Linked DNA regions of Homo sapiens. The protein of the gene in region 2 interacts with the protein of the main gene of each other region in a biochemical or structural test. Each region holds a gene or a part of one and is shown on either strand. Other genes may lie near its edges.

What was found.
Region 1: the proteins of NHERF2 (region 2) and PDGFRB form a complex in vitro, tested with the Homo sapiens proteins (2 studies listed by BioGRID and IntAct, with this or other methods).
Region 3: the proteins of NHERF2 (region 2) and RPS6KA1 interact in a test that uses a peptide from one of them, tested with the Homo sapiens proteins (2 studies listed by BioGRID and IntAct).

What each region holds. Positions count from the first base shown.
Region 1 is NC_000005.10:150,145,832-150,152,861, forward strand, and holds part of PDGFRB (platelet-derived growth factor receptor beta isoform 1 precursor), read right to left. Parts: exon of another isoform or gene 6,508-7,030; intron 1-6,507. UniProt on the Homo sapiens protein: Tyrosine-protein kinase that acts as a cell-surface receptor for homodimeric PDGFB and PDGFD and for heterodimers formed by PDGFA and PDGFB, and plays an essential role in the regulation of embryonic development, cell proliferation, survival, differentiation, chemotaxis and migration.
Region 2 is NC_000016.10:2,029,889-2,036,918, forward strand, and holds part of NHERF2 (Na(+)/H(+) exchange regulatory cofactor NHE-RF2), read left to right. Parts: intron 1-3,405; exon of another isoform or gene 3,406-3,463; coding exon of another isoform or gene 3,464-3,544; intron 3,545-3,700; exon of another isoform or gene 3,701-5,796; coding exon of another isoform or gene 5,797-5,805; intron 5,806-6,435; coding exon 6,436-6,615; intron 6,616-6,839; coding exon 6,840-6,993; intron 6,994-7,030.
Region 3 is NC_000001.11:26,567,745-26,574,774, forward strand, and holds part of RPS6KA1 (ribosomal protein S6 kinase alpha-1), read left to right. Parts: intron 1-3,704; coding exon 3,705-3,866; intron 3,867-4,104; coding exon 4,105-4,181; intron 4,182-4,431; coding exon 4,432-4,549; intron 4,550-5,479; coding exon 5,480-5,617; intron 5,618-6,334; coding exon 6,335-6,457; 3' UTR 6,458-7,030. UniProt on the Homo sapiens protein: Serine/threonine-protein kinase that acts downstream of ERK (MAPK1/ERK2 and MAPK3/ERK1) signaling and mediates mitogenic and stress-induced activation of the transcription factors CREB1, ETV1/ER81 and NR4A1/NUR77, regulates translation through RPS6 and EIF4B phosphorylation, and mediates cellular proliferation, survival, and differentiation by modulating mTOR signaling and repressing pro-apoptotic function of BAD and DAPK1.

The sequences.
Region 1 (7,030 bases), on a different chromosome or scaffold from region 2:
GCGCCACTGCACTCCAGCCTGGGCAACAAGAGTGAAACTCCGTCTCAAAAAAATAAATTAAAAAATAAAGTCGTCAGCCTTATCTTTTCGCCTTCTTTGTCCCAACTTCTCCTTTCACTCTTTCACGCTGTCTTTTGAGCTGGGTAAAGCTGAAGCTGACAGTTTGAGTGGGAAACAGTCACTCCATTTTTCACAGAGCCCTACAGTCTTAGTACATTCCCTCTATTCACATCTCCCCCACCTTCTCTGCAATTGCACACCTCCCATGACAGGGCTCTCACCACCTCACCTGTGGCCCATTTCATTCTTAGCCAGCTTAGAATCTTCAGAGGGCAGACTATTGAGAATTGTTAATTACACTGAGTACAGTTTATCTCACTGTATTCTCTGCTTATTGGTCTTGCTTCTATCCACCAACCACCCTCTCCCCAAATACAGGACATCTTTCTAGTTATTGTTCTGATCCCCCCCAATCTGGAAACAAACAAAAGTCCCTACTAATTTAGAGCCAGGCACTCTGCTAAATGAGATGATCTGGAGATTTTGTTTCATCCTCACGACCACCCTGTGAGGGGGGTACACTCATTATTCCCATTTTACAGAGGAGAATGATGAGTCTCAGAGACTTTTGGTAACTTTCCCAAGGTCACACAATAAGTAAGATGCAAAGGAACGGGAATGCAAACTCAGGCCGGCCTGACTCCAAAGCCTATATTCTTTCTTTTTTTTAGAGACAGGGTCTCGCTCTGTTGCCCACGCTGGAGTACAGTGGTGTGGTGGCATGATCATAGCTCACAGCTCACTATAGCCTCAAACTCCTGGGCTCAAGTGATCCTCCCGCCTCAGCCTCCTGAGTAGCTGGGACTACAGGTGCGCATCACCACAACTGCCAAAACCTGAATTCTTGCCCGTCATGCCAGACTGTCTGTCTCCTGACCAGAAACAGTTCTGTCCATCTGTCCACAGAGAAACGTTCTCCCTCTAATGGCGTCCATACGGAATCCAGGATCTCAGGGATGAGAAGATCCTCAGGGATCTGGGTCCCGCCTCTGCTCTGACTGAGGGGCAGTGTATGCGGGAGGCCTGCCCCGGGTCACCAATAATTTTAAAGTCGAGCTAGGGATAGAACCCAGGACTAGGGATAGAACTCCACAATTTCGCTGCAGAGGCTGAGGGTGAGCACACAAGGCTGAGGAGAGAGTTTTTGCTTAGGAAAGCCAGGGTCTGGCAGGGGCAGTGCTCCTGCGGGATACAGCATCCAGGCAATCAGCCCAGGTGTGTGGCCGGCTCTGCCACAGGCCTGCTGTGCACAGGGTCCAGGCCTGCCCCTGTGGGGGCCCCAGCACCCCCTTCCACTGTTTGCAGAGGGCCAGGGCCTCTGTAGCTGCAGAGTTCCAGGCCTCCACCATCCTGCTGCTGCCCTCCCCATCCCCACCCCCCAGAGCCTCATCTCCGGCCGGTGCCATGGCAACAGGGAGTGCCAGGCCCTTGGCAGCCAAAGGAGCCCCTGAGAGGGGTCCCAGGCTGAGACTGAGGAGGGGGGTGCGGCAGGCGCAGACAAGCAAACCTTCTGTTCCCCGGGCTGCTGCCAGCCCGGAGCAGCCATGGGCTGGGGTGGGGGCCGCAAATAGAATGGGTTCTCAGAGCCAAGTGGGCAGGGGACAGGCAGGCCTTGGGCCATTCACACTGACCCACCAGCACACAGCCTTCCCCCACAGGCCCAGGGCCTGCAAATAGGGGAGGGGTAGCTAGCTAATGAGTAAACCCTTCACTTATCAGTGCCAATTACCAAACATTGAGATTCCCCTCAGAGCCCTCCTGGGCGGCAGAGCAGGAGGGCAGAGAACCCCCATGTTTCACTGACCCTCTCACTGTCTCAGCATCTGTCCTCCCACCCCTGTCTTCGGTCATTCACTTAACCACCCCTCTGTGCCTCAGTTTTCTCATCTGTAGATTGGGGCTCATCACTGGGTTGTCAGGGCTATTGAAGGAGTTAACACAAGCAAAATGCTTAGAATAGGGCCTGGCACACAGCCCTCTGCAAAGTTGGTGGCCACATTATTATTATTCATTCACTCAAGGGAGAAGAAGTCACTCACTCACTCGGCCTTGCGCGCACAGCCAAGACTCCACGGGACTAGGCTTCTCAGCAAAGTGATGCATGTGATAAATGAGACGGTGCAAGAAGGCCTCTCCCAAAAGACGCTCCTCAGGAAGAGGTAGCTGCTGATTATTGGTACAATCAGTAGCAACAGCCCTTTTCAGTGTCCTGAGGCTCAGTGAGGAGTGTCTCATCCTAGCACACTCGGCGATTCGGTGGCCAACCTAAGGCCAGACCCATCTAATCACCACTGTCTGTCAATTACTTCTTTCCTGAACTTTTGTCTTAGTCCTTTAATATGACTTCCCACAAATCAGGATACCTACCTAACAACGATCTGGACTCTCTTCAACTTCCTAATATGGAATTAGGCCTACAGTAGGTGCTCAGTAAACGCTTACACGATATGAGAGATTAAATGGCTCTGTAGGGTCAGCTCTTCAGTCCTGGGCCCTCGGCTGCCTCCTAATAACACAGGATTCACTAGGCTAGGGAACTGGCATGGATAGGCAATGGTGACTCTTTCCTTCCAGGGAGGTGATGGAGATGAGCTGGTGAGGGCAGAACAGACATATGGCACTCTGAAGCCAACAGGCTGCGCCTGATGCCATCCAGGGCAGGGATGGGAGCCCCGCCAGGCTGGGAGCAGTGGTTCCAGCTGGAAGCCACTTATTCCTGGGTCCAAGCCCCAGTTCTCTGAGTTTAACTTATCTGAGTCCCAATTTCCTGGGAAATGGCATGGGAGACCTCCTTTTCCATTTCTGGGAGGGCCAGAGATGATGACGCACAGCACTTGGCACATCATAGGTGCCCAGTAAATGGTGACTAACAACAGTATATGATTACTCCAGTGGGGAGAGCGGGTATGGCTTCCTGAGGGAGGTGGCCTTGAGCTAGGCCTCCAGGGTTTCTTGAGTTTTTTGGCAGATGATGCCAGGGAAAGGTATGGCCAGGGCTCTGTGAGAGATGAAAGGCATCTGGGAGAAATGGCAGGGAGAGATCTGTTGGGCTAGAAACTGGGGCTCTTCAGCAAACAGGTAGGTGATGGCCTGGGAAGGAGGCAGCAGGAGGCCAGGGAAGGAGGCAGGGAGACTTCAGGAAAGGTCTGCGGTGCTGTGTGAGGATTTTCTCTGGACCACCAACTTTTCAAGGTGTTGATAGTGATGGCGGGTAGTAGCTGCTGGCTTGGCAGGGCAATGCTGTAACTCCAGGCACTGTGGGGAGGGGGCCTCCATGCAGGAGGATGACACCAGCAGGCTGGCATTTAGTGGGAGGCTGTGGATTAGGATGGGGACAGTGGAGGCTGCAAGGCCAGTGTTGGGGATGAAGCCGTCCCAAACTCAGCCTGAACTCCCTGGCAGGACAAGCTACATAATTTGTGGGGCAAGCACAAAATGGAAATGCAGGGCTCTTTGTTAAAAATTATTAACAATTTCAAAATGATGACTGCAGAGCATTAAACCAAACATAGGCCCTTCTAAGCATGGGGCCCTCAGGAGGATGAGTACTCATGAAGCCATCTCTGTGCCCTGGACTAAAGGGGAGGCCATCTGTCTGTCTCCATCGATTTATCCATCCATCCATCCATCCATCCACCCACCCACCAATCCATTTATGCATCTCTACATGCATTTATTTATCTAGTGATTATTTCACTATCCATTCAGCAGATAGGCCCTGGGTTGGACACTGATAAGGACACAAATACAGGTGAGATGGGAGCCACCCACAGTCCACCAGGTCAAACCTGCACCTTTACCTTCAATGCTCTGGGCCAGGAGGGGCCAGGGCTTCTGTGACATGTTTAGAAAGCTGAGCCCTACCCCTCTAAGGCTAACTGGAAACCCTGCCCCACCCTATAACCACTGAGGCTCAGCCTCAGAAGTGAAGAAGCTGGTGGTGTCACTGCCCTTGGGTTTCCACTTCTCAGAAGGGAAGGTAACAGAGCAGCAGCAATGAGGATGTGGCAAAACAGTCACAAGAAGCATGGTAGGAACTCTCAGGGGCTAAGGGCAGAGCTGGATGGACCTCTGGGGGCCACTAAACTTCTCCCTTGGCTTCTCCCCACTTTATTATAAGAGGAAACTATGATTAGAATGAAGAAGTGGTATGGCCAAAAGCTCGGGGGTCCAGCAAACCACCCAGGAAGATTCCCATTTCTTGTTGGGACGGCTTTGCTCCTTTTCAGCCCATAGCCCAGACAGACCTGGAGGCTGAGCCCTGAACCACAGAGGTGGAGCTGGGTCTCTCCAGGCCTTCAGAGAGATGGTAAAGACCCAGCACCTGTGGTGGAACAAAGGCGAGCCCAGGTCCCAGGCTCAGCGTCATCACCAATGATCTGTACGGACCTTAGGTGCAACCCTTCCCCTCTCTGGACCTTAGTTCCCATCCATACAATAAAGCAGTTGGATCAGGTGACCCCCAAAAGTCCTTTTCATCTCTGACATTCAGGAACTTTCAGACCCCCTGACCCTCCCAAGGGACAGCCCTCTCCATCACAGGGCGGAGAAGCTGGTACCTCTGGCAGATAAAAGGTTTCAGGCACCTGAGACATCAAATAGCCCTGATCTGAATTGAGGAGAGGAGGGGATTTTAATGCGGTTAAAGCAGTACACTTTGATTTTCAGCCTCCTGCACCAGGCTGGGGGTGGGCTACCCCAGGAAGCATCTGGTGGATGTAGGGGGCGGGGGCAGGGTGGGCTCTGGGGCTAAGGCTTGGAGGTTCAGGAAGACTTTATCCTGAGGATCTGGGCCTGAGGGCTCAGGAGGGATGTGAAGTGGGCTTCCACACTGGAAGCAACAAGCATGGGAATTTCACACCCACTCCCACCAGAGGTAGGTCCCTGTGTCCATTCCCCCCCTCACCTCTGGATCCCATCACTCATCTGGGCCAAAGCCTTGCTTCCTCTTGAAATTAGAGCATATGAGGTTTGAAAACGCAGCACTGGAAGAGACCTAAAGGGTTACAGCATCCACACACAGCCCCTAGTGGGCCTTCCTCCCCGACCCTCCCTGCTCAGTATCTCAGGAAAATGGGCATGTGGGAACTGTAGGAGCCCTCTGAGCTCCTCAAGAAACTGAGCACGTTAAGGGGCCACACTAATTGTCAGAAAGTTCCTCATTGTTATTGCAGGTTAAAGTTTTCCATTAGTGGTCATCGATCCTGACCTCTTTCTGTAATGTGTAGAAAAAGGGTAAGAAAAAAACCCTTTCATTGTGAAATTAAATATGCATGATCCCTGAGTACACAGCAAGGCTTGTGCAGCTGCCAATCTGGGCTGGCATGGCTTGGAATCCTGAAATTGTTTTAGGGCTGGAAGAAAGATTTACCATCATCTGGGTCAACCTCCTCGTTTGACTGATGGGAAAACTGAGGCCCCAGAAGGGAACGATCTGTGCACAGTCCCATAGGGTTCTAGGGTCTGATGACTACCTCTGGAATGCTGAGGGCCCCCACAGCTGAGGCACATTCTCAGGGTTTACACTGGATCCCCAGGGGCATCCCAGGCCCCATCCAGCCTCTCATCAAGGGGATCTGGAGTCAGAAACACCCAGGTGCAAATCCCAGCTCCGCCACTTCCGAGCTGTGGGACTTTAGGCAACTGACTCTGCGCACTTTCTCACCTGTAAAATGGGGAGAGTTTAGCTGGGTGCGGTGGCTCACGCCTGTAATCCCAGCACTTTGGGAGTCTGAGGCAGGCGGATCACTTGAGGTCAGGTAGTTCGAGACCAGCCTGGCCAACACGGTGAAACCCCATCTGTACTAAAAATATAAAAATTAGCTGGGCATGGTGGCGCACACGCCTGTAATCCCAGCTACTTGGGAGGCTGAGGCAGGAGAATCACTTGAGCTTGGGAAGCGGAGGTTGCGGTGAGCCAAGATCATACCATTGCACTCCAGCCTGGGCAACAGAGTGAGACTCCATCTCAAAAAAAAAAAAAAAAAAAAGTGGGGAGAGTTTATATATCTAATTTTGAGGTTGCTGTGACGGTTTATTTATTTATTTATTTATTTTTTTTGAGACAGTCTTGCCCTGTCGCTTAGGCTCACTGCAATCTCCGCCTCCTGGATTCAAGCAATTCTAGTGCCTCAGCCTCCTGAGTAGCTGGGATACAGGTGCGCACCACCACGTCTGGCTAATTTTTGTATTTTTAGTAGAGACAGGGTTTCACCATGTTGGCCAGGCTGGTCTCAAACTCCAGACCTCGGGTGATCCACCCGCCTCGGCCTCCCAAAGTGCTGGGATTACATGTGTGAGCCACCGTGCCCAGCCTCGATGGTTAAATTAATCCAGTAAATATTTACTAAGAATGTCCTGAATGCCCAGCATGTTCCAAGTGCTGAGGAATACAGCAGCAACTTTGAGGTAACAGATGTAAAGCACAATTGAAGTAGACACAGAAAGTGCTAAGAACGAGTTGGTTCCTGTTATATCATCATGCTCACACTGCTTCCCAGCTGAGGTGCTACAAGCCCTGACCCTGGGAAGGGGCCCAACACCCCTTCCCTTCCCTCCTAACGCTCTGGGTCAGAAGACAGGGGGCACCAAAAAGATTCCCATTCCAAGAACCCACTGCCCACTGGGTTCTGAATCAAATGCAAGAAATGGGTGGGCATTTCAGAAGACCTTTTCATCCCTTTCTCCCTTCCCACTGCATTCAGCAGCAGCCTGTTCTGAGCCAATGCCCAGAGCACCCTCCTTTAGCCTAGAAGGCAGCTGGTCTCAGAGTCAGACTGTGGCCTGTGCCTGGAGGATGGACACGGATCTTTGGAACATACATGGTGTCCAGGTCCCTTCTGTGGGCAGAGCCTTTTGCAGGTTGCAGATTAATTTCACAGCCAAGTGTTCCAATGCAGGAGGCCAGGAGAGCAGTGGTTCTCTCAGCCAGTGGCCAGAGGTCCAGCTGTGAAGTGCAGGAACTGTGGTA
Region 2 (7,030 bases):
TCTGCCTTTTGGGGCTCCTTTTCTGCCCCAGGGACCATCTTGTTGGCCACTGGGGGCCACTGTTTCTACCCTCAGCCTGTGTTTTAAACTGGGTAGGGTCAGGGCAGCCTGGCCTGTTCCTCTTCTCCAGGATGCTCCAGAGCCACTTGCCCTATCGAGGGGTCACTCTGACAAGCTGCCGCCTCCCCAGCCCCCAGCCTCGTGGCTGAGGAACCCTGGGAAGAGGCATTCCAGGTCTGCGTGTGCGCAGCTCTGTGCCTGTGCTGGGTGTCATCCGTGGCTCTGTCTTTGTCTCTGTTGAAGGCGCCTGCATGCTGGGAAGGCCTGGGAGAGGGCCGGCCTTCTCCACAGGCAGCGCCGTGGTTGGGGAAGCCTAGGAGGCCACTCTGCCAGGCCTGGCGTAGGTGGGGCTGGGAGCATGGGAGTGGAGTTGGGGGTCCAGGAGGCTCCAGGGTGAGCCCACTCCTCCCCCTAGATACAAGGGAGGGCCCTGGGACCCTGTCTGCTGTTCCTCCTGGACTCCTGCTGGGTAGTACTTCCTCCTTCCCCTGCCCTTGCTCCCAGCCAGGAGACCCAGAAAAGTACAGGGGCGGCCTGCTCCACCTCCTGCTAGGTGGCCGACTGGGAGGGGCGGCCTGGCAGGCCTTGGGGACCAGGAGGAACAGCCTGAAGCTGTCTGTCTTATCTTCCTGGAGGCCCTGATGGCATTATCTCCATGTTCTCTCCTACCTTTTTTTTTTTTTTTTTTTCATTTTCAAAGAGAACCCTGGCCGGGTGCGGTGGCTCACGCCTGTAATCCCAACACTTCGGGAGGCTGAGATGGGTGGATCACCTGAGGTCAGGAATTTTGAGACCAGCTTGACTAATGTGGTGAAACCCCCGTCTCTACTAAAAATACAAAAATCAGTTGGGCATGGTGGGGCACGCCTATAGTCCCAGCTACTTGGGAGGCTGAGGCAGGAGAGTCGCTTGAACCCGGCAGGCGGAGGTTTCAGTGAGCCGAGATCCCGCCATAGCACTCCAGCCTAGGCGACAGAGTGAGACTGTCTCAAAAAAAAACAAAAAAAGGAAAAGAAAGAAATCCCTTCAGGGGATATGAGTCCAGGGGTTGGCCAGACCCCACTGTGAGAACCGCGCTTGGGGCAGGGGTGTGGGATCTGGAGTTCTGAGGGTGCAGGGGATATACACATTCACTTTCTCCCTTTCCCAGACGTCACTGCTGAAGCTGGCTGCCCCTAGGAGCTGAGCCCGGGGGGAGCGGCTTGGCAGGGAGACAGCATTCCCTGTGGGGAGCCCAGCCTGGGCGCAGGCCTGCCCGTGGGACCTGTGGGACCCGTTTTGTTCCTGGGGCTTGAGGGCGGGCCACAGTGGTGCTCAGGGCCAAGGTGCCCAGCCCAGGGCTGGTGGGGGGGCTGGCCTTGCAGGGGGGCTGGCTGGTCCTAAGCCCCTGTCTCCAGGCTGAGGGTTGGGGCCTCCCTCTTTCCCAGCCACCTTCCCTCCCCCAGGAGGAAGCTCCCCCTCTGCCTCAGGCGTTTGTCCATTGATTTGGACACAAACGCATGGTTCACCTTCCTGTGGAAAAATCCGGCCCTCGGACTTTATCTGGAGGGTGCAGTGGCCCAGGCACCTTGCCTTGGGTGGGACCTTCCCCCTCTGCTATTTCAGGCTCTGGGGGCTGCAGGAAGCCCTAGGAGGGGCTTCCTCTGGGTGTATTTTTAGAGGAACAAAGGGTGGCCTGAGTGGCAGGTCCCTTTGTGCATGAGTCTGGCTGGGGACAGGGGCTCCAGGAGGTCAGGGGGCACCCAAGGAACAGGGTCTCCCCTTCTCTCTTCTGGCATCAAGACCTGAGGTTTCTTTTTCTTTTTCTTTCTTGGCTCACTACAACCTCCGCTGTCTGGGTTCAAGCGATTCTCTTGCCTCACCCTCCCCAGTAGCTGGGATTACAGGCGCGCACCACCACACCTGACTAATTTTTGTGTTTTTAGTAGAGACGGGGTTTCACCATGTTGCTCAAGCTGGTCTCGAACTCCTGATCTCAGGTGATCTGCCCTCCTCGACCTCCCAAAGTTCTGGGATTACAGGTGTGAGCCACTGTACCCGGCCCCTGAGGTCTGAGGTTTCATTTCTTTCTTTCTTTTTTTTTTTTTTTGAGACGGAGTTTCACTCTGTCGCCCAGGCTGGAGTGCTGTGGTGCGATCTCGGCTCACTGCAAGCTCCGCCTCCTGGGTTCAAGCAATTCTTATGTCTCAGCCTGCTGAGTAGCTGGGATTACAGGCGTGTACCACCACACCTGGCTAATTTTTGTGTTTTTGGTAGAGACAGGGTTTCACCGTGTTGGCCAGGCTGGTCTCAAACTCTTGGGCTCAAGTGATCCGCCTGCCTCAGCCTCCCAAAGTGCTGGGATTACAGGTGTGAGCCCCTGCGCCTGGCTCAGGACCTGAGGTTTCTTCACCTGAGCTCCCAGCATGGGCAGGAAGAGGTGGGCCTCACCTGACCTCCACAGAGCAGGCTCAGATCCTGCCCTTCTCAGCCTGGGTTCAGGGCATGCCTCAGATGGTCAGGGAGCCCAGGAGGGCAAAGCTTACCTTGCGGGGATGGCTCCAGTGGGGGCACTGGTGGCAGAGAGGCAGAGCTCTGGAAGGGATGTGTGTAGTTTGTCTTTGGTGAAGGATGGAGAGGGCCCAACTTTGGGTGCCCCCTGGGAGCTAAGGGTGGCTCTCAGTGTCCTCTGTCCTGGCTGGGGATAGGGGAGGTGGGCAGGGGAGGACACTGATGTGGTTGGCCCCTCCTTTTGGGGGCCGTGAAGGCCTAGTTAGTGATGACTCAGCCCTGGGCCACACCAGGCTGGGGGTGGCCGCAGCTGCAGTGCAGCTGATCCTAGTAGTGACGACAGGGGACAGCCCCCAAACAGAGACGGGGTGGCCAGCGGTGCCAGGCCCTGGAGGTGGTGGCAGACCCTGAGCCCTCTGCCCCCTGCCCCTAGCCCATGTCTCCACCCCCATCTGGAGGGCCTTGGGGGCTAAGAGCAGGTGTGAGGGGTGACAGTTCTGCGGGAGGCGGCTGTGTGGTTGGGGCGCGGTGCCTGCGGGGGCTTCCGGGCTTCCCTGGCTCTTGCTCCTCTGGAGCCTCAACAGGACCGTCCTGTGTTCTGGGGCCGGGACTCCTCCCTGTCCCCTCAGCCCTGGGTCCTGGGGCAGGGCAGGGCCTTCCAGCAGCTTCCTTCCTTCCTTTCTTGGGACGGAAGCCTAGCTGGGTGGGGGGCGCCAGGCTGGAGCCTTCGCAGGGGAGCGGGCTCAGTCATCACCCTGCTCCCCAGAGTGACTCAGCCCCCACGTCCCCACCCATCCCCGGGGAGCCAGGGCCGCAGAGGGAGGTAGATAAGTGGGGTGGCAGCCTGGGTCGGCCAGAGAGTTCAGGCCACCCCGGCCGGACGCCTGCCACTTGCTGTCACTGTGCCGCTGTCATGGCACGCTCCGGGAGTGCCACGCCACCTGCCCGGGCTCCGGGAGCCCCTCCACGGAGCCCACCCCAGAGGCTGGTACAGGTCAGGTGGGGTGGGAGGAAGGGAGGGCTAGGAGGAACCGGCAGCCGCTCAGCCTCCCGGGGTGGAAGGAGGGGACTCCGGGACCTTGATGTAAGCAGGCTGGTCGCTGAGCAACAATGAAGGCCTTTCTCTGCCAGGGCTGGTGCGTCACCATCTGGGGGGGTGCCCAGGGTACCCCCATGCCAGCCTCTTTGTCCGGACACAGGCATGGCTGGGGGACCAGGGATGGTCCAGCTCTGTGCTGGCCGCCGGCAGGGAGGGAGCCTGGAGCCCGTGGGAGCCCGAGGGCCTGGCGGGAGGCGGCAGGAAGTGTGTGCTGAGCCAGGGCAGGGAGGAGGAATGTGAGCTATGAACGCCGCCCGAGCTCCTCGGCTCTCTGGGCCCCCCTTCCCCACGAGCCCATGTGCTGCCAGCAGCCCACCCTGGCCCCTCCATTGCAGCCCCTCCACCTGAGGTTTTAGTGCTGTGCCTGGCGCCACTGGGACCCTGCTGACAATGAAGGGGTTTAGGTTTGATAGGCAGAACTTCTTGCCTTGTAGAGTGAAAGACGGCTGCTTCTGGACAGAGGCAGAGGGGTGGCCAGAATGACCCTGAGAACACTGAGGGGTCCTTGGCCTGGCCTCAGGGCCCCAGACACCCACCAGATCCTGCTTCCTGTCTGGTGCCCTGAGAAACCCTGCCCCGCAGGCCGCTGTGCAGGCGTGGGAAGGGCTGCCGGGCCAGCACTGTGGGGCTGGCCGCATGTGTGGGCTGCTGTGCGTGTTTGCAGGTGTGTGTGGACGTCTTGTGTCTGTGGCTGTGTGATGTGTCTTTGCGGACTGGGCCCATATCACGCTCCCACCTCCTCCACTGAATTGGGCTCCTGTCCCCACGCCTTCCCTGCGTCCCAGGCCAGCCTGGGGGCCGTGCTCCACCTCCCCTCCCGAACTGGACTCCTGTCCCCACGCCTTCCCTCCGTCCCAGGCCAGCCTGGGGGCCGTGCTCCACCTCCCCTCCCGAACTGGACTCCTGTCCCCACGCCTTCCCTCCGTCCCAGGCCAGCCTGGGGGCCGTGCTCCACCTCCCCTCCCGAACTGGACTCCTGTCCCCACGCCTTCCCTCCGTCCCAGGCCAGCCTGGGGGCCGTGCTCCACCTCCCCTCCCGAACTGGGCTCCTGTCCCCACGCCTTCCCTCCGTCCCAGGCCAGCCTGGGGGCCGTGCTCCACCTCCCCTCCCGAACTGGACTCCTGTCCCCACGCCTTCCCTCCGTCCCAGGCCAGCCTGGGGGCCGTGCTCCACCTCCCCTCCCGAACTGGGCTCCTGTCCCCACGCCTTCCCTCCGTCCCAGGCCAGCCTGGGGGCTGTGCTCCACTTCCCCTCCCGAACTGGACTCCTGTCCCCACGCCTTCCCTGCGTCCCAGGCCAGCCTGGGGGCCGTGCTGTGACTGCATCCCTGAGGGGCACTTTGGTGGGCAGGTGTCAGGGTCAGCCTTGAAGCCCCACGCCTGTGCCACCAGGTGTGTCTGGGGGAGGAGTGAGTCTATGTGGTGGGGCCCTGGAGATTTTGGGGGTCTTGCACCCTCTAATTCAGCCCATGTGGCCCAGCTGAGCCCCTGTGGGGCCAGGGAGCCACAGGCTTGTCCCTGGAGTTTCTGGTGTGACGGGCTGGGTGGTGGCCATGCAGAGAGGGTTCAGAGGGTGGGCAGGAGGCTTCAGATGAGGCATCTGGCAGGCTGGACAGGAGAAGGGTGTTCCAGACCAAGGGCAGGTCCTGAGCCCAGGGGACAGAGCACTAGCTGTGTGGAGAAGGACCCCCTTGCTCCCTTGGCGGGGCGGTCCCCCCCGCTGACATGGCCGTTTCTGGTCCATTGGGGTTTGGAGCGAGCTTGAAGGTGGGTGGCTGGAGGGGTTGGGGGTGTCTGAGGCCTGGAGACCTGCCCTCCTGAGGTCTGAGCGCCCCCTTGCCATGCCGCCCCAGCCCTGGCCTGGCCTGGCCTGTGGTCCCTCAGGGACACACAGGGAGGTAGGAGGTGAGGGAAGGGCCCTGGCAGCCCCCAGCCCGCCTGCACAGTCTCCCCTGCGCACGCCCTCAAGCTTGGCGCTCCCTGGAAACCTGAGCTGCCTCCTGCCTGCTCCGGCCACCGCCATGTTTAACTGAGCACGGGCAGCCGCTGGCCACCGCCGCCGCACCCTGGCCCACCCCCTGGCTGGGAGGTGGTCATTGGGCCTGGCCTTGCCTGCATGGTCCCCTGGCCCAGAGCCCTACCGCAGGATGCCAGAGGTAACATGGGGCAGGGCCTGGGATGGTAGCGGGGGGTCCTTCCGGGCACCAGGAGGCCCTCTGTGCCCTGTCCACACTAAGCTCCTGCCCCAGCCCCTGCTTGCTGGGCCCACGGGGGTGGGGCGGCTCATTTTCCTGGAATGTGAAAGCAAACAGAGCCGCCACCGCAGCCAGCCCCACGGAGGCCTCTGGAGAGAAAACAAAACTGCTGGCCTAGGAGCGCCTGCCCCACGCTCTGGAGGAGAGCCCGGGGCAGGGGGACGCACAGGCAGAGCCCTCAGGGACAACCGCCCCAGGAGGCCAACGGCGACAGTTCATCCCACCTGGTGCTTCCTCCCACCCTGCCTGTGCGCCACGCTGGCCTCGAGCCAAAGGAATTCTCCCAGCAACCCGGGAAGGCGGCTGGGCCCGTCGGGGAGGCTTCTGGGTTTGAAAACAGGCTTTGCCCAAGTTCCCACAGCTAAAGCTCTGTCACAGGCAGCCTGGGTGCCCGGAGTGTTTGCCACTGAGACCTGGGCCTGCCCGTGGGGGGCACGGTACCGAGTTTGGGCAGTGGCGGCACCACCGGGGAGTGGCCTCTGGAGGCGGGAGGCTGGAGCAAGAGACTGACCCTGTCCGTTGGGCCTGCAGGATGTCAGTGGGCCCCTGAGGGAGCTGCGCCCTCGGCTCTGCCACCTGCGAAAGGGACCTCAGGGCTATGGGTTCAACCTGCATAGTGACAAGTCCCGGCCCGGCCAGTACATCCGCTCTGTGGACCCGGGCTCACCTGCCGCCCGCTCTGGCCTCCGCGCCCAGGACCGGCTCATTGAGGTACCGGCCCACCAGGGCTGCGGGGTGCCGAGTGCCCCGCACCTGTCCACACTGGGGCCCTGGGTCCTTGCAGGGAGGAGGGAGACGCTGGGAACCTGAGCTGGTGCGCCTCCTGCTGCCTCGGTGGGCGGTGGCTGTGATGAATATTTGATGCCACACCTGGCCACGCGGCGTTGGGGGCTGTCTGGGCCCATGGCGGGGCTGATACATGCTGGTGGCGGCAGGTGAACGGGCAGAATGTGGAGGGACTGCGCCATGCTGAGGTGGTGGCCAGCATCAAGGCACGGGAGGACGAGGCCCGGCTGCTGGTCGTGGACCCCGAGACAGATGAACACTTCAAGCGGCTTCGGGTCACACCCACCGAGGAGCACGTGGAAGGTGGGCCACGGCCCAGGGCACAGGGTGGGTGCGGTGT
Region 3 (7,030 bases), on a different chromosome or scaffold from region 2:
TCCAAGGCAGTTCTGGGGTTACTGTGATGTCCATCATTTCCCAAGCCCTTTGCTAAATATTCCTGTCCTTCTCTATAAGCCTGGGGTTGAATACTATTATCAGCCCCATTTTACAAGTGAGGAAACTGAGGGCTACAGATGTTAAATGTCGTGCCCAAAACCACACAGCTGTGAGTGGATAGTAAAGCCAGGATTCACACCCTGGCCTGCCCGACTCCTTCCTGTGACTGGAATCCCAACTCTCCTGGAGGTCACGGCCTATTGCTCCAGTGCCTGCATTTGGCCTACACATATATTTTGTTTGGCCTGCAAGATAAGGGGTGTTTTTTGATTTGAGGTATGGTTTAGTAAGGTTTGGTAATTTGGCTGCTTTTAAAAACACTGGGTCCGAGTTGCTATGTAGTGACTGTCAGCTGGAGCCAGGTAGCTGCTGTCCTCTGTGGACTGCTTGGAGGTTCCCACTCTGCCTGGCTTCACTCATTACTTGCCCAGCCTGTTGTGATTTTCCATGCGGTGAGATGTGAGACTATACTTTTCCTCCCCCAACATACACTCCTGAGGGTCAGGTATCAGAATCACCTGTGGGGCTTTTTAAAGCTGTACTTCCCCTCCCCCACTCACCATCCCTACTATTCTGCCACTGGCAGTGGTGAGACAGTTTCCTATAGGAATTTGTAGTTTCTCTATGTTGTATTAGGGTAGGAAAAAAGATCAACAACTTGAGCCGGGCGTGGTGGCTCACGCCTGTAATCCCAGCACTTTGGGAGGCTGAGGCAGGTGGATTGCCTGAGGTCAGCAGTTCGAGACCAGCCTGGCCAACATGATGAAACCCCATCTCTATTAAAAATACAAAGAATTAGCTGGGCATGGTAGCAGATGCCTGTAATACCAGCTCCTTGGGAGGCTGAGGCAGGAGAATTGCTTGAGCCTGGGAGGCAGAGGTTGCACTGAGCCGAGATCACGCCATTGCACTCCAGCCTGGGCAACAAAAGCAAAACTCCATCTCAGAAAAATAAATTAATTTAAAAAAAAGGTCAACTTCCATATCCCTGTGTCCCAGTAGTGTCATGTGTGCCACACTAAACTGGAAAGACTATGGAATTCAGGTCAGAACTGGGTTCTGGTCTTGCCTCTGCCTCTAACCTACATGCAAGTGAGTTGTCCTCTCAGGCTGGGCGTAGTGGCTCACACCTGTAATCCCAGCACTTTGGGAGGCCAAGGTGGGAAGATCACTTGAGGCCAGAGTTTAAAACCAGCCTAGCCAACAGGGTGAAACCCTGTTTCTATAATACAAAAATTAGCCAGGCATGGTGGTGCACACCTGTAATTCCAGCTAACTGGGAAGCTGAGATATGAGAATTGCTTGAACCTGGGAGACGGAGGTTGCAGTGATCCAAGATTGTGCTGCTGGCGAGACTCCATCTCAAAAAAAAAAAAAAGAAAATTGTCCTCTCAGAGCTTTGGTTTTCTCCTCTGTAAAATGGAGCTAATAATTCCTGTCCACCCGCCGAGGTGCAGTGGATGGCTCCAGTGAGATCACGACTGGTAACATTCTTTGTAAACTGGAAGTTCACTTGTGCAGGGTAGTTGGTGTCCTCAGCCAAGCTGAGCATCCCTGACCTCTAGGTAGAGTCCACATTCCTGGGGGCCTGGCCTTGTGCTGTGGGCATACGATTGTGTTTGAAGGAGGGAGCCCACGGGACTTTCTCCAAGGCTTGGATACAGTGTGTTGCTGGGGCTACCCTAACAGTGTGGCCCTTTCCCCCTCATCTACCTGGCACTCTTCTCCCTATGGAGGTGGACTGTGCTGGGCCATGTCTACCTACTCCACGGGCTCCACGGGCATTGCTGGAGGGCTTGGAGATCAACTGAGACTATGAAAAGACTATCTGAATAAAACCAACTAACCTGCAAAACTCTACTAATCTAACCTGCAAGGTATCTGTCTCTGTGTTTCAGAGGTGTGATTTGTTCATTCATTGCACAAAGTTCACTTAGCATTTGCTCTGTGCTAGGCCCTGCACTGGGTGCTGAAGGTGAACGGGCATTCCACAGACATAGGGTTATGATCGTTACCGAAGGAGCCCCTGGTGGCCTGAGCTCAGGGCACCTGAGGGATGCAATGGACAGTGAGGCTGGAACAGATGATGGCTGTGCCTCCCATGTTAGGGTAGGGACTTTGGGCTTTATCTTGCAGGTAGGGAGCCTTTGAAGGTTTTTTGACAATGCCCAGGGAGGTTCCATTAGCTTAGGGGAGGAGGAGCAGGAAGATGAGAACATGAGGAGTTTAGTGTGGGATGTGTTGAGTTTGAGGCTCTGTGGAACATCCAGTGGTTGCCTTGTGGTAGGCAGTTGGATTTATGAGCCAAGACTCAGGAAAAGTTCTGGACTAGGGTTAGAGATCTGAGAGGTATTGGTAGTTGATAGTTAGAGGATTGACTATGAATGGAACTGTACAGGCCAGGCACAGTTACTCACACCTTTAATCCCAGCACTTTGAGAGGCCCAGGCAGGAGGATCACTTGAGCCCAGGGGTTCAAGAGCAGCCTGGGCAACATAGCGAGACCCTGTCTCTGCAAAAAATGTTTTAAAAATTAGCTGGGTATGGTGGCACATGCCTCTAGTCCCAGCTGCTTGCGAGGTCGAGGTGGGAGGATCACTTGAGCTCAGAGATTGAGGCTGCAGTGAGCCATGAATCATGCTGCTGTACTCCAGCCTGGGCAACACAGACCCTGTCTCAAAACAAAACAAAACAAAAAAGCCTTACAGAGTGTGGGGAGGAGAAGAATGAAATGTGGGGTGGTTCAGCCCCCTCAAGTTACAGATGAGCAAACAGGGCCCAGAGGAAAGCCGTTTGCTTATGGCCTCAGCAGTAAGTGTCATTCATCCATTCATTCAACAGATATTTATTGAATACCTGCCATGTACTAGGAGCTAGTTTAAGTGCTGGGATACAGCAGTGAGCAAAACACTCAGGGAGCTTACATGCCGGTGGGCAGACTCAGAAAACAAATTAAATATTATGTTAAGTAGTGGGAAGTGCTACAGATAAAAGTAAAGCAGTGTATTCTTTGATTTTAAAGATAAGGAAAATAGGGCCAGGCGTGGTGGCTCACGCCTGTAATCCCAGCACTTTGGGAGGCCGAGGCAGGCAGATCACTTGAGGTCAGGAGTTTGAGACCAGCCTGACCAACATGGTGAAACCCCATCTCTACTAAAAATACAAAAATCAGCCAGCCATGGCGGCGGGTGCCTGTAATCCCAGCTACTTGGGAGCTGAGGCAGGAGAATTGCTTGAACCCGGGAGGCGGAGGCTGCAGTGATCTGAGGTCGTGCCACTGCACTCCAGCCTGGGTGACAGAGGAAGACTCCATCTCAAAAAAAAAAGACTTTTAAGATTTTGACCTAAGTAACAGGAAGGATGGAGTTGCCACAAGGTAAGATTATGTGATGAGTAGGTTTTAGGGGAGAATTGAGAGTTCAGTTTTGACAGGTTAACTTAGAGCTACCTGTAGACACCTACACAGAGTCAGTAGCAGCAGCAATAAGACCATCATTTCAGCCCCTTCCCCTTCTCTCGGATGCCAAGTCCATGCACCCGTCCCTCTGCACCCTGTCTGTGTAGCTTTCTAATCTCTGGCCGCTGACCTGGGCCACTAGCCACCTCCCCACACTGAGAACTGACCCCAGCCCCCTGCCCCTAGGTTGTGCACAGGGACCTGAAGCCCAGCAACATCCTGTATGTGGACGAGTCCGGGAATCCCGAGTGCCTGCGCATCTGTGACTTTGGTTTTGCCAAACAGCTGCGGGCTGAGAATGGGCTCCTCATGACACCTTGCTACACAGCCAACTTTGTGGCGCCTGAGGTGAGTGGCCCAGCCTCCTCAGCTGTAAGAGTGAGGGGGAATTGGAGGCCTTGTGCCCCCTCCCAGAGGCCCCACATTAGCCGGGACTCCAGTCTCTGTGACCTTGGCCCAGCTGGCAAGGGAAGATCTAGCCTGTGCCTGGGACCCTTGTCCTGCCCTTGAGGGGAGTAGCAGGAAACATCTGTGGCGACTTTCTACTGCCCCCCCAGACTGACCACCTCCCCTGCCCTGTTGCCAGGTGCTGAAGCGCCAGGGCTACGATGAAGGCTGCGACATCTGGAGCCTGGGCATTCTGCTGTACACCATGCTGGCAGGGTGAGTGCCCCTGGCCTGGACCCTTCCCCACTCCTGCAGCCCTAGCACTTGGGCTGAGTGGTGCTTGTCTGATAGGAATGGCTCAGCCAGCCCCGCCCCAGGATGGTCTGGAAATAGGGACATGCTCCTGCCTCCAGGAGCTCTACCTTGGGAGTACCCCATCTGAGGGGGAGACACAGTCTCCCACCGCAGCCCCAGCCCCAGTATGGAGGCCAGAGTCTGTACCCAGACCGTGCGGGCTTTTCTGCAGATATACTCCATTTGCCAACGGTCCCAGTGACACACCAGAGGAAATCCTAACCCGGATCGGCAGTGGGAAGTTTACCCTCAGTGGGGGAAATTGGAACACAGTTTCAGAGACAGCCAAGGTGAGTCTGTACGGCCTGCGTGGGCTTATTTGGAGGAGGGAGGCAGGGTCCCATCCTAGGGCTTTTCAGCAGTTCATGAACAGCCTCATTTCTCCAAGCGGATGTTCCACAAATCCCTGTTGCTGTATTTCTCCAAGCGGAAGATTCCCAGGCAGACCACCACCACCTCCGTACCTTGTTGGGGTAACCTGGTGATCATTCATTGGCCCTTCTCATTCTGGACCCTGTGGGGCACTGAGGGCTGCATCATCACAGTCCCGGCTTTGTGGAAACGTAGTGTAGTGAGGGATACAGGTTTGCACACAAGGGGCAGAGATGCCTGGAGGCACAGATAGGCGGACGCTCTTGGCCAGGGGTGTGGACCGTGGAGACACAGAGCAGAGCAACTGGCCATGCCAAGCAGAGCCTCCTCGGAGGAAGTAGCATGTGAGCTTTCAGTATTAGCAACAGTTTTTGGTCATTGGGAACCTGTATGCCAGACAGAGTTGAACCCTCTATGTACGGCCGGCCACCTCACATCAACCTGTGAGGCAGGGAGTGGTTATTCCTATTTCTCAGCAGGGAAACTGAGGCTCAGAGAGTTGAAGGAACTTGCCCAGGGCACTCATTTGATGAGTGCAGAAGGCAAGTTTTGAACCTGAATCTGTCTGAGCCCAAACCTGAGGCTTTTCCCACCTTCCCACATGGCTTTTTGAAGGCAAAGGAGAAATGGAAGGGTGTTCCAGGACGAAGGGCCTAGAGCAGCAAAGGCCCAGCGACAGGAACCTTGGCTGTGTGCGGGGAGCCCTGGAGCAGAGTGGAGAATGGATCCCAGGGGCTGCCGCAAGGGTTCAGGCGGGAGCTAGCAGGAGATGGTTGCCCTCCTGTGCCCCATCAGGGGCCTGCTCCCCTGCAGCCCTCCCCCAACCCCCTTGCCCACTGTGTCCCCAGGACCTGGTGTCCAAGATGCTACACGTGGATCCCCACCAGCGCCTCACAGCTAAGCAGGTTCTGCAGCATCCATGGGTCACCCAGAAAGACAAGCTTCCCCAAAGCCAGCTGTCCCACCAGGACCTACAGCTTGTGAAGGTATGGCCACCCTTGGGCTGCTGGGCATCTGGGGGGTCAGCCCAAGGTGGCATGGTCAGGGACTTGTGGAAGAGCCAGGCAATGCCATGTCTGTACCAAGCACCATGAGGTGGAACATAGGAGAAGAAGACACAGCCCTGCCGTCAGGGAGCCTAACATGCTACAGTGTCACGGTGCACTCACAGCCCCCAATCCTCTGGAAGGCACAGCTGCTGACCTCTGAACCCTCCAGTCTGATGGGGGAGGCAGGACCCATGACCATAAAGGACCACTGAGGCTGGATTAACAGTGGGCTAGGCTGGGCGCGGTGGCTCACACCTGTAATCCCAGCACTTTGGGAGGCTGAGGTGGGTGGATCACGAGGTCAGGAGTTCAAGACCAGCCTGACCAAGATGGTGAAACCCCATCTCTACTAAAAATACAAAAATTAGCCAGGTGTGGTGGCAAGCGCCTGTAATCCCAGCCATTTGGGAGGCTGAGACAGGAGAATCGCTTGAACCCTGGGGGCAGAGGTTGCAGTGAGCCAAGATTGTGCCATTGCGTTCCAGCCTGGGTGACAGAGTGAGACTGTATCTCAAAAAAAAAAAAACAACAAAAACAAAACCAAAAAAAGTGGGCTGTGGAACACTGAGAGGGGCTGGCCTACCCTTGGGGCATGGATCCCCTCCCCGCTACATCTCCCACCATTGTGACCTGACCTCCCCACTTCTCTTTCAGGGAGCCATGGCTGCCACGTACTCCGCACTCAACAGCTCCAAGCCCACCCCCCAGCTGAAGCCCATCGAGTCATCCATCCTGGCCCAGCGGCGAGTGAGGAAGTTGCCATCCACCACCCTGTGAGGCACCAGGGCATTCGGGCCACAGGGCGGTGCTAGCTTGACACAGTCAGCATGCTTCCCAGAGGGAGCAGGCCGGAACCACAGGGCCAGAGGGAGCTGGAACCCGAGGGGCCGGGGAAGCTGCCAGCCCAGAACACCCCTAATGAGGGTGTGAGAAGTGCCTTCTCCTTCCCCAGGATGGACTCTTCTCGGCTCAGGCTCTGCTGGTGGAAAGCGATTCACTGTATAAACTTTTTTTTATGAAAAAAATGGCATCAACCACCATGGATTTTTACAAGATCCATTTGCCTTTCTGGGAGCAGAAACAGCCATTGCGGCCCCAGGAGGGGAACTGAGTCACGCTGGGGCTCTCTGAGACTCTTTAGAGCAGCTTTGGGATCCCACCCTGGGGACCCCCACGATTGGCCACCTGTAGCCATCTGCACACACCTCCGAGACAGTCCAGTGTCACCTCTCTCAGAGCATCTGGCTGTTTAGCAGAACTCATTCTATCCCCAATCAGCTCCTTTTCCGTTCTGTTCTGCTGGGAGTTCTAGAACCACTTCCTGCTACAGGAGGGGTCTCATGTCCTGCT